Linked DNA regions of Homo sapiens: region 2 is linked to region 1. The links come from fine-mapping of genetic effects on gene expression. Tissue or cell type: pancreas. Region 1 holds a variant in brackets; the other region holds the start of a gene. All regions are shown on one strand. Distances are between the middles of the regions.

Region 1 (8,191 bases):
TGAATGAGGAGACAAATAAGCCATTAAATATTGGTAAATATAACACCATGAAGACAGAATTTTGAGGCAGAGGTTTTGTCTGTAACCTTAAGCCCCACATTCAAATGTTTTGTGAACTGATGGCCAACACTCTGACAAGGAATATTATCACTATCCCCCACTCAGCTTCACCAGTGATCTCAGATTTTACATTGCCCAGTACTTCAGTTTGAAAAGTACTAATGGAAAATATATTTTCAGATGGATTGATTCAAATAAGATATAAAAGAATATGAAGCATACTGCTCCATTTGGATCATTAGAAATTTTCTAGTAAAATAAAATCAATAGTGCCATTATTGAATTGGGATTCTTCTAGATTGTTCTTTTAATTCTGAATTCACAGCTCAAATTTTGAAGAGTCTTTTAAAGTTACTTTTCCATTTTAAGTATGCTTGATTATAAATAAACAGTTAAAAGTGGGCCAGGTGCAATGGCTCATGCCTGTAACCCCAGTACTTTGGGAGGCCGAGGCAGGCAGATCACCTGAGGTCAGGAGTTCGAGACCAGCCTAGCCAACATTATGAAACCCCGTCTCTACTAAAAATACAAAATTAGCTGGGCATGGAGGTGCACACCTGTAATCCCAGTTACTCGGGAGGCTGAGGCAAGAGAATTGCTTGAACCCAGGAGGCAGAGGTTGCAGTGAGCCGAGATCGCACCACTGCACACTCCAGCCTAGGCGAGAGAGCAAGACTCCATCTAAAAAAAAAAAAAAAAAGGTGTTATAATGCATTGGGCTGTATTCTACATTTGGGTTTAGTACAATTCAGTTACAGTCAAAGTAAATTGCTGAATAGAAACATATTATACGTTTGTGTGTCTAACATAAATCTCCCCTGCCTTTTCTTAATCCCCAGTGTTAAAAGGAAGCTACATAATGACTGGGTTATGAAAATTAGATATATTTCAGCCCTAAATTGTTTTGGATCCTGCTCCTTAGACAGTAATCATTCATTAGTTTTGGAATCCTTGAAGAGACTCGAGGATAATTTGTAAGTATAGTAATTTATATACATGAACAGTCTGTGAATTTCAAGCTTTTTACAATGATAAAACCATGACAGCTTTGAAACTTTCAAACTGGCTTTAAAAAAATCGGACATTAACTATTCCATTTGTTTGGGAAGGTTAATTAGATTTCTCAGGAAGAAATTGAAGCCACTTATGCAAATTTGAACATGACGTGTCCTAACATCAACTGTGCCCATTTGTTGTTTATTTCTATCATCTACTGAAATTAATCAATACGAGTGCATCTATAACATATTTCAAAATATAGTTCTGTTGGTAAAATTTTATAATTTTAAAATCATTCTTACAGGTCAGTTGGCTAACCAAGAGCTTGTGAGTATGATCTGTAGACCAGTAATCATGTTTCATGTGTAATATACAAGTTGGCATCCTCATAGAAAGGTTCATTTGAATATTGTCTTATTTTCAATCTGGTTAAATATGTATTAATAACTAGAAAACCGATATTGTATCTTAATTTGGGGTTTTAAAATTGCATTGAGATGTATGCTACAACATGAATGAATATCAAAAACATTAAGCTGAATAACAGACGCCAGACAAAAAGACTGCATATGGTATGATTCCATCTATATGTAATATCAAAAAAAGGGCACATTTATAGACACAGAAAGTACATCAGTGGTTGCCTAGGACTGGTGGTAGAAGCAGGGATCCCACATGGGCACAAGGGGACTTTCTTGGGTGATGAAAATGTTCTAAACTTATTGTGGCGACTGTTGATTGTTACACAATTCTCTAAATTTACTAAAAATTATTGAGTTGTACGCTTACAATGAGTGAATTTTATGATATGCAAATGTTATGATACCTATTGGGGTATTACATACCCTAATAAAGATGTCTCAGAAAAGCTCATCGAGACTCCTGGCTGCCTTCCAGTCTGGCATGTAAAGAGCTTGGAAGTTGCCATTCCATCCTAACAAGTAAAAATGTAACAAACTAAAAAATAAATAATTTTTCTTAGATCCATCAGAGAAGTAAGGTCACAAGGCAGTTTTGTTGCCCCCACATTGGAGAGACAGAGGGGCAAACACTGGGAATCACAACTTACTGGAGCAGAAATTCATGGGCAGGAACCCCCTGAATAACCAGTATAGGGCAGGAAAACCTAAATTGTAATGGACAAGTGCTCAGCATGGACAATTTTAGAGTTAAAAATTCCAGGGGTGCCCAGTCATAGGGGCCCCTATGCTTTTGTGAGTTTTACTTCCAGGAGTTCAACAGATTCTTAAAGTGAGTATCAGTGAAAAATTCTCTCTTACTTCTGGCGGAGGGGAAGGAAAAGGCACCATTTTGAAACGTGCCAGAACATGTTGTTCTTTCCAAGGTATGCCCTCAAGAGAAACTATGTTATCAGAGTCTAAGCTATTGGAACTTTGTCAGGGAATAACTCACAGAGGGAAGGAAAACATCCACTCTAACCTCTGGTCGCACCTAAGAGGGAGGGTGAGGAAGACTGACAAGCACTTGTGAAATTCGCAATCCAGACACACAGGCTCATCAAAAGAAGGAGACTTACTCACAGGATTCACCTTCCCCCACAGCTTACTGACATGTTACTAATGGCCTATTTATAGCAGTTCCCTTTACCCAGTAAATCATGTCCAGCTATCAAGAAAAAAATTACAAGGCATACTAAAAGGCACAAAACAGATTGTCAGAGTGATCAAAAAAACAAGACCCAACTATATGCTGTCTATGAGAAACACACTTTAAATATAAAGACACATATAGGCTAAAAATAAAAAGATGCAGAAAGATATACTATGCTAAAACTTATCAAAAGAAAGCAGAAGAAGCTATGCTAGTTTTATATAGAACAGATATCAGTGCAAGGAAAATTGTCAGGGATAAAGAAGGGCATTACATAATGATAAAGGGGTCAATTCTTAAAGATGCTCTGACAATCCTTAATGCAGATGCACCTAACAACAGAGCATCAAAATTAATGAGGCAAAAACTACAACTCCAAGAGACAGAACAAGCATCAGAATCAGATGCAGACATGGCAAGGAGGTTGGAATTATCAGAATGGGAATGTAAGACAACTACAATTAACAGGCTAAGGGCTCGGATAAAGCAGGCAGCAGACAAGAACAGACGGGCATTGTAAACAGAGAGATGAAAATTCTAAGAATAAAAAGTTCTAAAGATCAAAAACACTGATAGAAATGAGTAACGCCTTTGATGGGCTCATTAGTATACCGGACGTAGCTGAGGAAAGAATTTATAGAAGATTCAAAAACAGAAAGCAAAGAGGAAAAAAACTGAAAAAACAAAACAAAACAAAAAAAACCATAGGATATCCAAAAACTGTGGGCAACTGTGAAAAGTGTAACATATGTGTGATGAGAACACCAGAAGAAGAAAGGGAGAAAGGAAGAAAAGGTACATTTGAAGTAATGACTAAGAATGTCCACAAATTAAAATGAGACACCAAACCCCAGATCCAGTAATATCAGAAAGCACCAAGAAGGATAAATGCCAAAAAATAACTATACCTAGGCATATCATGTTCAAACAGCAGAAAAGTAAACATAAAGAAAAAAACTGGCTGGGCGCAGTGGCTCACACCTGTAATCCCAGGACTTTGGGAGGCCAAGGTGGGTGCATCACAAGGTCAGGAGTTAGAGATCAGCCTGACCAACATGGTAAAACCCCGTCTCTACTAAAAATACAAAAATTAGCTGGGCATG[G/T]TGGCGCACACCTGTAATCCCAGCTACTCAGGAGGCTGAGGCAGGAGAATTGCTTAAACCTGGGAGGCGGAGGTTGTAGTGAGCCGAGATCACACCACTGCACTCCACCCTGGGCGACAGAGGGAGACTCTGTCAAAAAAAAAACAAAAACTTGAAATGAGCCAGAGGGGAAAAAAACAACTTATCTGTAGAAAAGCAAAGACAAGAATTACTTGTGATTTTTCCTCAGAAATCATAAGCAAGAACAGTTGAGTGAAATATTTAAAGTGTTAGAAGACCTACCAGCCTAGAATTCTGTATACCGTGAAATTAGCCTTTAAAAGTGAAGGAGAAATAAAACTTTCTCGGACAAACAGAAATTGAGGAAATATGCTATCAGTATACCTGCTTTTCAAGAAAGGGTAAAAGAAGTTCTTCAGAGAGAAAGAAAAGCCGTAAGTCAGAAACTTGCATCTATATAAAGAAAAGAACAGCATCAGAGGAAGAAAAAGTAAAGGTAAAATAAAAATTGTTATTTTTGTTATTCTTAACTTTTCTAACAGATAATTTGTTCAAATAATAATGACAGCAATGTATTCAATTATATACACAATATATACACATATAAACATATATGTATGTATATATGGTATATTTGCTATGTGTAAGCAAAATAAATGACAGCAATAATACAAATAATGGAAGGAATTAGGATTTTTGTTTATTTTAATATACTTGTACTGCCTGTGTAGTACAGTGTTACTTGAAAGTGGACTTGGATTAGTTGTAAATGTATATTGCAAATGATAGGTCAACCACGAAAAATTGTTTTTTAAAAAATGTGTAACTTATATTCTAAGAAAATAGAGAAAATGAAATCATGTAAAGTGTTTATTTTAAAACACAAAAGGCAGAAAAAGAGTAAAAGACAAAAATAGAAACAAAGAAAAGCAGCAATTAATAGAAAACAATAACAAATATAGTAGATATTAATCCAACTATGTCAATAATTACTTTAAAAGTCAATGGTCTAAATACAGTAGTTAAGAGACAGAGATTGTCAGAGTGATCACAAAACAAGACCTAACTCTATGTTGTCTATAAGAAACCCACTTTAAATATAATGGCACATATAGATTAAAAGTACAGGGATAGGGTAAGATATACCATGCTAACACTTATCAAAAGAAAACAGGAGTTACTATAAAAACACTTAGCAAAGTAGGAATAGAGGGAACATCATCAACTTGTAAAAAACATCTACAAAAAACCTCCAGTTAACATCATCTATAGTACTGGACAGTTTTCCCACTAAGATCAGGTATAGCATGTTTGCACAATACAAGGTTATTATATACAAGTCAATAACTTTCCTATATCCTAACAATTAACAAGTGGCATTTTAAATTAAAAACATAGGCTGGGCACAGTGGCTCATGCCTGTAATCCCAGCACTTTGGGGGGCCAAGGCGGGCAGATCACCTGTGCTCAGGAGTTCAAGACCAGCCTGGCCAACATGGTGAAACCCTGTCTCTACAAAAATACAGAAATTAGCCAGGCATGATGGTGGGTGCCTATAATCTCAGCTACTTGGGAGACTGAGGTGGGAGAATTGCTTGAACCCAGGAGGCAGAGGTTGCCGTAAGCCGAGATTGTGCCATTGCATTCCAGCCTGGGCAACAGAGCAAGACTCCATCTCAAAAAAATAAAAAAATAAAAAAAAAAAAAAGAAACACAATGCCATCTACATTCGCATTTGAGAATGAAATACTTAGGTATAAGTCTAACAAAATATGCAAGATCCAAATGAGGACAACCACAAAACTCCAATTAAAGAAATCAAGGAATTAAATGAAGAGATATTCCACGTTCATGAATAGAAGACTCACTATTGTCAAGATACCAGTTTTTCCCAACTTGATATGTAGAGTCAATGCGATCTCACCCAAAATTCAGGAAGTTATTTTGTGAATCTTGACAAGTTCATTTTAACATTTATATGGAAAAGCAAAAGGTCTTGAGTATTCATCACAATAATGAAGAGGAAGAAACAAATCATAGGACTGACAAGTCAAGACATAAAGCTATAGTAATAAAGATAGTGCGGTATTGTAAAACAATGGAAAAAATAGATCAACAAAGCAGAAATAGACCCACATAAATATAGTCAACAGATCTTTGACAAAGGAGCAAAGGGAATACAATGGAGCAAGATATTCTTTTTAACAAATGGTTCTAGAACAAAGAAATAATTGATGAGCTGTACTTCATTAAAATTGAAACCTTCTGCTCTGCAAAAGACTCTGCCAAGAGAATGAGAAGACAAGACACAGACTGGAAGGAAGTATTTGCAAAAGACATATCTGATAAAGGACTGTTATCCAAAATATACAAAAAATTATTTCAACTTTATAATAAGTAAACCAACAACCCAATTGAAAAATAAACAAAAGATCTGAATAAATACTAAGATACACAGATGGGAAATAAGCATAAGAAAGGATGCAAAACACTTTAAGTCATGAAGGAAATGTAAATTAAAATAAGATACCAGTACATACATATTAGAGTGGTCAAAATCCAGAACACTAACACCACCAAATGCTGGTGGGGTGTGGAGCAAAAGGGACTCTCATTCATTGCTGATGGGAATGCAAAATGGTGCAGTGACTTTAGAATTCCGCTTGACCGTTTCTTAAGAAAATGAAACATACCCTTACTACATGATCCAGCAGTCATACTACTTGGTATTTACCCAAAGAAGTTGAAAACGTATATTCACACAAAAATCTGTACATGGATGTTCATAGCAGCTTTATTCATTATTGCCAAAACTTGGGGGCAACAAAGAAATCTTCAGTAGCTGAATGGATACACAGACTCTGGTAATCCAGATGATGGAATATTAGTCAGTGCTAAAAGGAAATGAGCTATCAAGCCATAAAAAGACATGGAGGACCCTTAAATGCATATTACTAAGTTAAAGAAGCCAAACTGAAAAGGCTACATACTGTATGATTCCAATTATACGACATTCTGGAAAATGTAAAACTGTGGAGACAGTAAAAAGATCAGTGGTTTCCAGGGCTTTGAGGGGAGGGAGGGAGCATAGAGAATTTTAGGGCACTGAAACTACTTTGTATGATACTGTAATGGGGGATAATGTCATTACACATGTATCAAAACCTATGGAGTGTACAACACCAATTGTGAACCCTAATGTAAACTATGGACTTTGGTTTATAATCTTGTGTCCATTATTATAACCAATGTAGCACTGTGGTGTGGGATTTTGATTTCGGGAGAGACTGTGCATGTGTGGGGACAGGGAGTATGTGGGAAATCTCTGTGCCTTCCCCTCAGTTCTGCTGTGAATCTAAAACTGTTCTGAAAAATAAAATCTAGTTTAAAAATGTGCTGAGCTACAAACAAGAATCTGACTTGTTGCAACAACAACAGCCATATTATTCGGATTTAGCCTTAAGGATGAGCATAAACCTATCTAAAAAAAAGATTGGTTAAAACATATAACCCTTCTCTGGTGATTTAATTCCATTCTTAAAAATTTATTTTCAAAACCCTAATAAATTTTTCTGAATTTCAGCTTTTTAATCTAAAAAATGGGTGAGTCGAAAGGAGATTGATTGTTAGCTATAGAACTTGGTCTCCTTCCCCACCTTTACATTTAGAGAACAACTAAAAGTAGTACTAGGAAAAATGGTGAGTAGCCTGTCCCCCTAACAAAATGCATGATGTCCTTTAGGTGCTCTTGAGCTGTTTAAATGAAATTCATACAAAAAAAAAAGAGTCACAAAAAATAGCCTCTGCATATACAGACTTAGAATTCCTTTAAATTCTGAGGTTTTAAATTTAAGCAATGAAATAACAGAATTAGAAATTTAATGGAAGAACAGCATATCACATCTCTAAGATGTGACTTTTTCTAAGATGTGATTTTCTTGAAAATTGTAGACTTCATGAAAGATACTTTTTTTTCACTCATTTAGAAAGGACGAAATGTTTATTTTGCTGTATAACATATTGCACTGAAAGACAAATTAAAAACCCTTCACAGCACATTAAAAACAGTTTCATTTCTTGACACCAGATTGGATTCCACAAATATCATTTATATGGCATAATTAATTGCATAGTTTCATTTAGTTTCTGTAATATAATTAACTGCTAGTGATTATACTCTTGCATTTTAAAGGAGTGCATTTCTGAAACATTTAATTAAGAAATAGATGCAAGTTTATATCCAATTTGATTATATACTATGCTGGCAATTCGTGATACATTCATAACCATAAAGGAACACTGTGAAAACGTATGCAGATTGATATGCCCTTGTAGTCCTACAGAAGACATATTCTACTTCAACATCCAGAGAAAACATGTTCATTTCCAAGATACACAAATCTATAGCCTCCATTTTA
Region 2 (8,191 bases), 50 kb before region 1:
TACAAAAGGATTAATTCAGTAAAACAACTGGCCATTTAAAAATATTTAGGCTCATAATAGCCCTGAGGAGGAAAATGTATTAAAAATATTATATGAATGTACACATGCATATAAGTAATAAAGGAAAAAAGTGTGTAAGTGTAAGTAAAAAAGGAAAACTTCTGATTTCATATTAAAATATCTTAACATAAATAATACCTACTTCTAACATTTGAATACAGTGATGTTTGCATTTCGCCACTGTCTCTGCAACCCTGAATCTCTGCATCCCAAGCAAAAGGTCTATCTAAACATCCTCTGCCAAGACTAACACTGTTTGTTCTTATTTTTGAAGGGGAAGTTTAAAAAAAAAAAAATAATAAGGTTCTCCTGTTAACTTTGAGCATAATGCTGGTTACATTCCATGTGCGGAAGACATCTGTGTGATGCCCTGTGTGGCCAGAGGTAGAAAGGCCAAGGTGCTGAAGAGCATACTCACCTGAAAGTCTTTAGGCTAAAGCAACAATACTGCTAAACTTTCTAATATTCATCATTGCACAGTTTTGAGCTCTGGTTTTCACTACTGTTAAACCTACTGAAATATAAATCAGTACAAGCTGTACCTGTCTAGCCCAAGATGACTAATAATCCTGGATACTGGAAAAACAAGCCATTCAATTGGAACTTAGATTAAATTGCATAGGGCACACACCTTTAGTTTAACTAAAATGGCAATCCTAACAGTCCTGTCTAGTCAAAGCCTCTGTCTCAAAAATATCAAGGATTCCACTCATTTTTGGCATTCCCTAAGAAGCCAGGAACTAAGTACAGAATGCAGCAGTTGCCTGGCCCACTCAAGTATAAATATAAGTATGTCTGAATTACTTATTCTGCTTCTTCCAGCAGGGTGTGAAGATGGAGACTGAATCTATGATGGTATCTGAAGAGGTGTAACCATAGTACATGCTGCTTCTTGGCTTAGAAAGACAGGGCTCAGGGTAGGAGTAGGAGCAGAAGACACAATCAATAAGCGCTAAGATCAGGCACGTTCTAACCTACAGATATCAAAGGGGTCATCAAAATGCAAAGCAAGTAGGATGGCCTTACAGAGCATTAAGCTGAATTACCCAATAATAGAGATGAGAGAACTGATAGCTGGAGAGATTAAGTGACTTGAGAAAGCCCGCACAATGCATGAGTCGCAGGATAAGGAACAGGATCCACTCTTGTGCCATCAGACCAATGGTCTTTCCAACAGATAGGGCAAGCCTCTCCAAAAGCCTCTGCATCAAGAAGCTACTTCCCTCATTTTTAACTTCCTCCCCTTCAATACTCCACTGTTAGGTAGTTCTTGCTCAGGGATAACTCAGGAAGTGCCCTCCTTTTCTTCATCCTTAACCTGGATCTAGAAGCACAAACTCCGGAATTTACTCCAGGCAAAGAAATCATCTTCGCTAAAAACTTTTTAAACTCTATAGTAACTTCACTACTAACTTGCCCCCCAGGGCTTAAGTCTCGGAATCTCTTATCTCAGGGTTTCCACCTCTACATTAAAAACAGGGAGAAAGTCATGGTTGAAAGCACTAAATGCCCTGAAAAATAGGGCAGCCCTCAGGCAAAAATCTAAGTGAACTTAGAAAATCACTGGGCTGGGACCCTAGGAGGGATGGTGAAGAAGAAAAACAGGAAGGGAGAAGTGACCAGGAGACACAGGAGGGTGGGATCAGCAGAGGAAAGAGGTGAGGAAGAGGGTGGATGACAGCTAGCACTTATAAAGAACTCAGTACACCCTTGTGTTCAAACTCCCGGGCACGAAAACAGAATTTTCCAGCACAGAAAAGGCACTTCAAGGAAAAAAGAACTTTGATGTCTGTGAACAAACACCTGTTGACTACCCTGGAGAACACTACTGATGATACTTTAGGCTTGGGCTTGAATAACCTTCTTAGCATTGCCGAAGAAACTGCCTGATAGGTATTTTACAATTAATATAAGGAGTGTAATCCCATAGTCGTCCATACCACAGCCTACATACACTTGCAGTCCCCTCCCTAAATTTCAAATGTTTGTTCAAATGAAATTATCAGATTAAAGCTTATGAGGGGCGGGGAGGAAAATATTATAACCTCTGAAGCAATCAAATAAAATCTATTTTCTTATTTCCTTCAAAACGCCAAAAAATGAATCATTACAAATATAATATTTGGGTTTGTCATAGCATAGAGGTTACTGAATAAGAAAATATTTTTGATAATTCTACAAAGATTTTTGTTCTCCCAAACCTACCAAGATTAAAGCAATAAAGTATCAATGGATTTCAGGATTTAAAAAAGGAACTTTAAGCCTTGAGAAATACACATTTCTATTTCAAATCTCCCTACAAATGAAATTCCTGAGGCACACAAAAAAATAATTTCCTTTCTACGCTTCCTTCAATGATTTGCTGAGTTGTTGATCATCCTTCAAAACATCATGTCTCAGTGAAACTTAAATCTTCCATAATAAGAGTACTGTCGAAATACATCTTCAACAATGAAGTTCTACTTTAATGAAATCTACCGATTGCAGAGCTAATTACAGTATTTGTTCACCTGAGATGGTATTGGCTGAGCCATTTGTAATCTCACCCAAGATTCTGGTGTGCTGGAACCCATCTATAAGACGGAAAATAGTAAAAACAGCTTACAGGGCACATGCCAATTTGCATTCTGAGGACCTGAATGAAACTGTCTCATTCCCTAGAAAGCATTCAAAGGTTTACAAGTACTAATGAGAATTTTTTTTTACACATTGTTATTTTGGTTTTCTACTCTCATTTTAGGAAACAAATAGTAGTACATGAATCTAATCTCATCACTCCCTCCAACTTTCACGAGTTAATCACTTTTTTTCTTGAATCTCTTGACTCTACAGGCCCTCGTCTCTTTCCTCAAAGTGTAAAAAGCCGTGGTTTCGTGCCTTGTTGAGTGATCTTAGGAGGTAAAAACAAATAAGAAAGGAGGCGGGCCGGGGTTTGGGGTCAACGTGGGGGGCAGATGAGAGACCACAGGAATGGAGTCCTGGACAGCGTGGGGCGGGAGGGGACGGAGGAAGAGGAAGGCACCCGCCATGCGGCTGGGGTCGGGCAGCGTTGAGGAGGCGAGCGGGGAGCGGGGCGGTGTAGGGCGGGGGGCGCGGGGCCGAGCGGGAAGCGGTGCGGGGCGGGCTGGGGGGCGGACGCACGGAGCGGGCAGCGGGGTGGGGAGTGGAAGTTTGCAGAGGGGAGGCTGCCTTCTCCCAGTCCAACTCACCGAAGAGGCTGCCGCTAAACCCGTCCCACACGCAGCCCACGGTGTCCCACACCCAGCCGTTCCTCAGGCAGGACACGAAGGTAAAGGTGACCCCGAAGAGGGACACCAGCAGGTCGCTGAGGCTGATGTTGACCAGGAGGAGGTGAGTGGGAGTGCGGAGCCGCTGGAACTTGTAGTAGAGGACGAGCACCAGCAGGTTGTTGCCGACGCCCAGCAGCCCAATGGAGCCCAGCAGCAGCGCCAGGCGCTCGTAGGTGCCGGGGCTGAAGAGGGGCGCGGGGCTCAGTGTCCCCGCCGGCGCCGGCCCCTCAGCGCCCGCGGCCCCGCCGCCGTCCCAGTAGCCGTGGCCGCCGCTGCGGTTCCCCGAGTACATGGCCCGGCGCCGGCGCGCCTGGCGGGCGGAGGCGCTCAGCTTGCGGCGGGGCTCGCGGCGCGCTCCGCACTGGGTGGGGTTGGGGCTCCGCCGCCTGCTCTAGCCATTGTGCACTGAGGGGCCCGCGCTACCGCGCGCCGGGCCCGCCCTCTTCCCGCCCCTTCCGCCCGGCGCACCCCCCGTGGCCCCGCCCCTCCCCGCGGCCTGTCCTCGTCGCTCCGCTGCTCCCGGCGCGTCCTCTTAGCCCCGCCCCCCCGCGGGCGCGTCCTCGCGGCTAGCTCGCCCCGCCCCCACTGGCTGGGCACCTTCCGCTGGTCGGCGTGGACGCGCGTCGCGGGATAGCCTGGGGGCCAGGGCCGCAGGGTAGCCTCGATGGCTCTTCACACCCCCACCTCCCTGCACCCACCTTGAAAGCTTCGTGTCCACTCACCCATTCATGCACTCACTTATACATTCATTTATTCCTAAGTATTTATGAGCGCCTGCGCCCACCACGTGCTGGCAAGAATTGGGTTTCTCCCCTTCCTGGGAAGCTGTAATAACCCACAACCAGCCTACGAAGCCCATCCCGCGTCATACACTCAATGTAAACAAAAGCAAAGAAAACATTGAAGAGCTCGGGGTAGTCTTACCGGAAAACTGAGAAGAAAAACAACAAATTGATAGACAGGTGCCTGCCTAACTACCTGACTGCTAGAGGACACATGTCCCAGGGCTGATACAAGAGCCTGCCACCCTTGGAGAGTCTGGGATGAAAACTCTCTGAAAATGGCATTCCAATGGAACTGACTTTAAGCCCTGGGCTGGACCCCAAGGCCTTCCAATACCGTCCTTCCTGTGCTTGAAAGCGTGGGTAGATCTTTCCGGTCACTGAGGCCTGCTAAAGTCCTTCACAGGCAGTGAAAGATTCAACCTAAATCTAGCAGGTATAGGAGGCAGGTGCTATATTTAGAACAGCACACATTTCCCATTGGGCCTCTTCTCCTGTAGTGATGAGAATATAGTACAAGTCAAATATAGGTTGTGAACGTCATCACACTCTGCAAGAGCTGCTTCTGCCTTTGTGGTTGCACAATCCCTAAGGAGGCCCTACAAGAAGATCACAGTCCCCAGCCACACCTGCAGCCTGTCCTGGACACTGGTGACGAACACAGGGTTTGTGCAAGCTAAAGAAACTGCTCTCCATACGGGCGTGCCTCACCTCTGTTTGAAAGATCAGTAGGGAATGACTAGCTTGGATCAATCCACATTCTGAATTCCCTGGAGAGAGGATCTAATAGGCTGGCAGCAGCTCTCCACCCTGGTGCACTGAGCAATAGCTAAGGGGCAGTGTGCTCTGCCTTTGACACCTTGATTTTCCTTCAAGGCTTCTGCTCTGGACTCGCCATCTGTGAGACTTCCTACCCACCCACCCCTTAAAAAACACACACACACTTTTAATTGTTAATTTTAGATTTGTACAACCACTGAACAAAACATAACTATTTAACAAGTTCTATATGTTTAATGTCGAAAGTGTTTTCTGTGTCTAGTCTACAGTAAGTTCTCAATAAATAGTAATTTGAATGAATGAATAAAGAACTCGCTATATTTTTTCCTATTCATTCTTCATTGCTGAGTCATTGCCCTTATAAAGCTCACATTCCAGTCGTGTTGGGAGAACAAACAAAAATTAGATAAATACGTAGGGTGTCAGCCACTGACAAATGCCATGAAGAAATAGGGGTCAGGCGTGGTGGCTCATTCCTGTAACCCCAGCACTTTGGGAGGCCGAGGCAGTAGGATTTCTTAAGCCCAGGAGTTCAAGACCAGCCTGGGCAACAAAGTGAGAACTGCCCCCTAACTCTTCAAAAAATAGAAAATTAGCCAGGCAAGATGGTACATGTCTGTGGTCCCAGCTACTCAGGAGGTTGAGCCAGGAGCTATGGGAGATGGGGCAAGGAGTTTGTAAGAGTTAAAGAAAGAGGAAAGAAACACTAATAGCAGCTCAACAGTCAGACAGTGTTATTTGGAAGAATAAACCTAAGAGGGGCTTCTGGCCGATTTCGGTCAGGAGCACTCTCTTACAGACTAAGAGTATTTAAGGATTTTAGAGTGAGAGAGCTTATCACAGGCGTGGAATGTTTCTGTTTGGAGAAGAAGTTTATTGCCAAGTTGGAATGTCTCTGTCGGAGGGGAGGTTATCTCGGGGCTCGCATGTCTCTGGTCAGGGAGGGGTTTATCTTAGGGTTGGAATGTTTCTGGTCGGAGATGTCATTTGTGGTGTATGGTCATGCTGACCTTAGCCATTAGGCTGATGCTGTTTGGATTTAGGTGGTTTTTGATCAAGGGGAACTTTAAAATGGCAGTGCTTGTCCATGATGGTGATGCACCTGCTCTGTCAAGGTTGTTATTTAGACAAGGTGGTTATGGGCAGGAGTACTGTATTGGTATGTTGGAGGAACAATAAGGAAGCAAGAATGAGAATCGGGAAATGCAGCCAGTCAGGTGGGTGTGCAGTGAATGGCCAGAATATGCAGGACCTTGGCCATTTCAATAAAAGGACTTTGGCTTTTACTCAATCAGAGTAAAGTCCAGGGCAATGCCTACTAGCAGTGAATGCAAAGGAGGAGTAAGAGGCCTTTGACAAATGCTTAAGCATTTTTGACACAGTAATTTTACAATACTATGAACCATTAAGGACATTTATTGAGCTTGACAGAAACAGGCAATGATAAGGATATATGTTTCTTTTTTAATTTTAGAATTATGTAATGACAGGATAATGGCAGAACACTACAATCTTTTATTAAAAAAAAAAACAAAAAACAAACAAATGAAAAACACCAGCATGATATAGTTTGGATGTTTGTCCCCACCCAAATCTCATGTTGAAATATAATCCCCAATATTAGAGGTGGGTCCTAGTGGTAGGTGTTTTGGTCATAGGGGGCGGATCCCTCATGAATGGCCTGGGCCATCCCCTTTGTGATAAGTGAGCTCTGGTCATCTAAAAGTGTGTGGCAACTCCGCCATCCCACTCTCTCTCTCTCTCTCTCCCTATCTGGTTGTCGCCATGTGAGATGCCTGCTCTCACTTTGCCTTCCACCATGAGTAAAAGCTCCCTGAGGCCTCCCCAGAAGCTGAGTAGATGCCAACACCATGCTTCCTGTACAGCCTGCAGAACTGTGAGCCAATTAAATCGCTTTTCTTTATAAATTACCCAGTCTCAGGTATTTACAGCAGTGCAAGAACAGCCTAATACACAGCATAAGGACAAACATGTAGACCAATGGAATAGAATAGAGAGCCAAGATATAAACTCTTACATATATGGTCCATTGATTTTTGACAAGGATGCCAAGGCCATTCAATGGGGAAAGGAGGAAAGGACAGTCTTTTCAACAAATGATGCTGGGAAAACTGCATATCCATGTGCAAATGAATGAAGTTGGAGCCTTACATTATATCATATATAAAAATTAACTCAAAATTGATTGGAGACCTATATGTAAAAGCTAAAACTATAAAACTTTTAGAAGAAAACTTCTTGGGTATGACACCAAAAGCACAGGCAACAGGAGAAAAATAGCTAAATTGGACTTTATCAAAATTAAAAACTGTTATGCATCAAAGGGCACTATCAAAAGAGTGAAAAGACAGCACAGCAAATGGGAGAAATACTTGCAAGTCATATATCTGATAAGGCATCAATATTATAAAGACCCCCTACAACTCAACAACAAAAAACTCCACACAACCCAATTCAGAAATAGGCAAAGGATCTGAGTAGACATTACTCCAAAAATATACTAATGGCCTAAAAGCACATGGAAGGAAACTTACTGTGATTAGTCATTAGGGAAATGCAAATCAAAGCCACAATGACATACCACTTCACACCTACTAGAAGGGCTATCATCAAAAAACAAAACAAAACACAAAAACAAGTGTTGGTTTTTGTGTGGAGATGTGTAGAAATTAGAACCCTGTCGTACTGCTGATGGGAATGTGAAATGGTGTGGCTCCTGTGGAAGACAATTTGGTAGTTCCACAAAAAGTTAAACATAGAATTATTGTGAGCTCATTCCTGTAATCCCAGTGCTTTGGGAAGCTTAAGCAGGATGATCACTTGAGGCCAAGAGTACAATGACCAGCCTGGGCAACATAGTAAGACCCCATCTCTTCAGAAAAAAATAAAAAATTAGCTGGGTGTGGTGGCACATACCTGTAGTCTCACCCAACTATTCAGGAGGCTGAGGCAGAAGGATCCCTTGAGCCCAGGAGTTTGAGGTTGCAGTGAGCTGTGATCGTGTCACTGCGCTCCACCCTGGGCAAGAGAGTGAGACCCTGTCTCAAAACAAAAAAAATTGCCATATGATCTAGCAATCCTATTCCTAGGTATATACACAAAAGAATTGAAAGCAGGGACTCAAACAGGTATTTGTATACTTATGTTCATAATAGGATTATTCAAAATAGCCAAAAAATAGAAACAACTCAAATGCCCATCAACAGATGAATGATACATGGAATGTGATATATACATACAATGGAATATTATACAGCC

The links. PIP is the estimated chance that this variant, and not a neighbour inherited with it, causes the effect.
Region 2: CHML starts here. The variant in region 1 is fine-mapped to the expression of CHML in pancreas (GTEx, PIP 0.96).

What each region holds. Positions count from the first base shown.
Region 1 is chr1:241,686,562-241,694,752 of GRCh38, forward strand. It overlaps WDR64 (WD repeat domain 64), which reads left to right. Exons shown (of 28, transcript NM_001367482.1): 8 at 900-1,034. The region is part of intron 1 of LOC124904603 (a long non-coding RNA gene); the gene reads right to left. Among named protein-coding and RNA genes, the nearest start is that of WDR64, 38 kb to the left of the region's middle. The variant G/T (reference allele first, on the strand shown) is at 3,774.
Region 2 is chr1:241,636,613-241,644,803 of GRCh38, forward strand. It overlaps CHML (CHM like Rab escort protein), which reads right to left and starts at 3,757. Exons shown (of 2, transcript NM_001381853.1): 1 at 3,270-3,757. It overlaps OPN3 (opsin 3), which reads right to left and starts at 3,757. Exons shown (of 4, transcript NM_014322.3): 1 at 3,270-3,757. The coding sequence starts at 3,642. RefSeq lists enhancers at 2,884-3,454, 3,455-4,024 and silencers at 3,127-3,176, 3,507-4,086.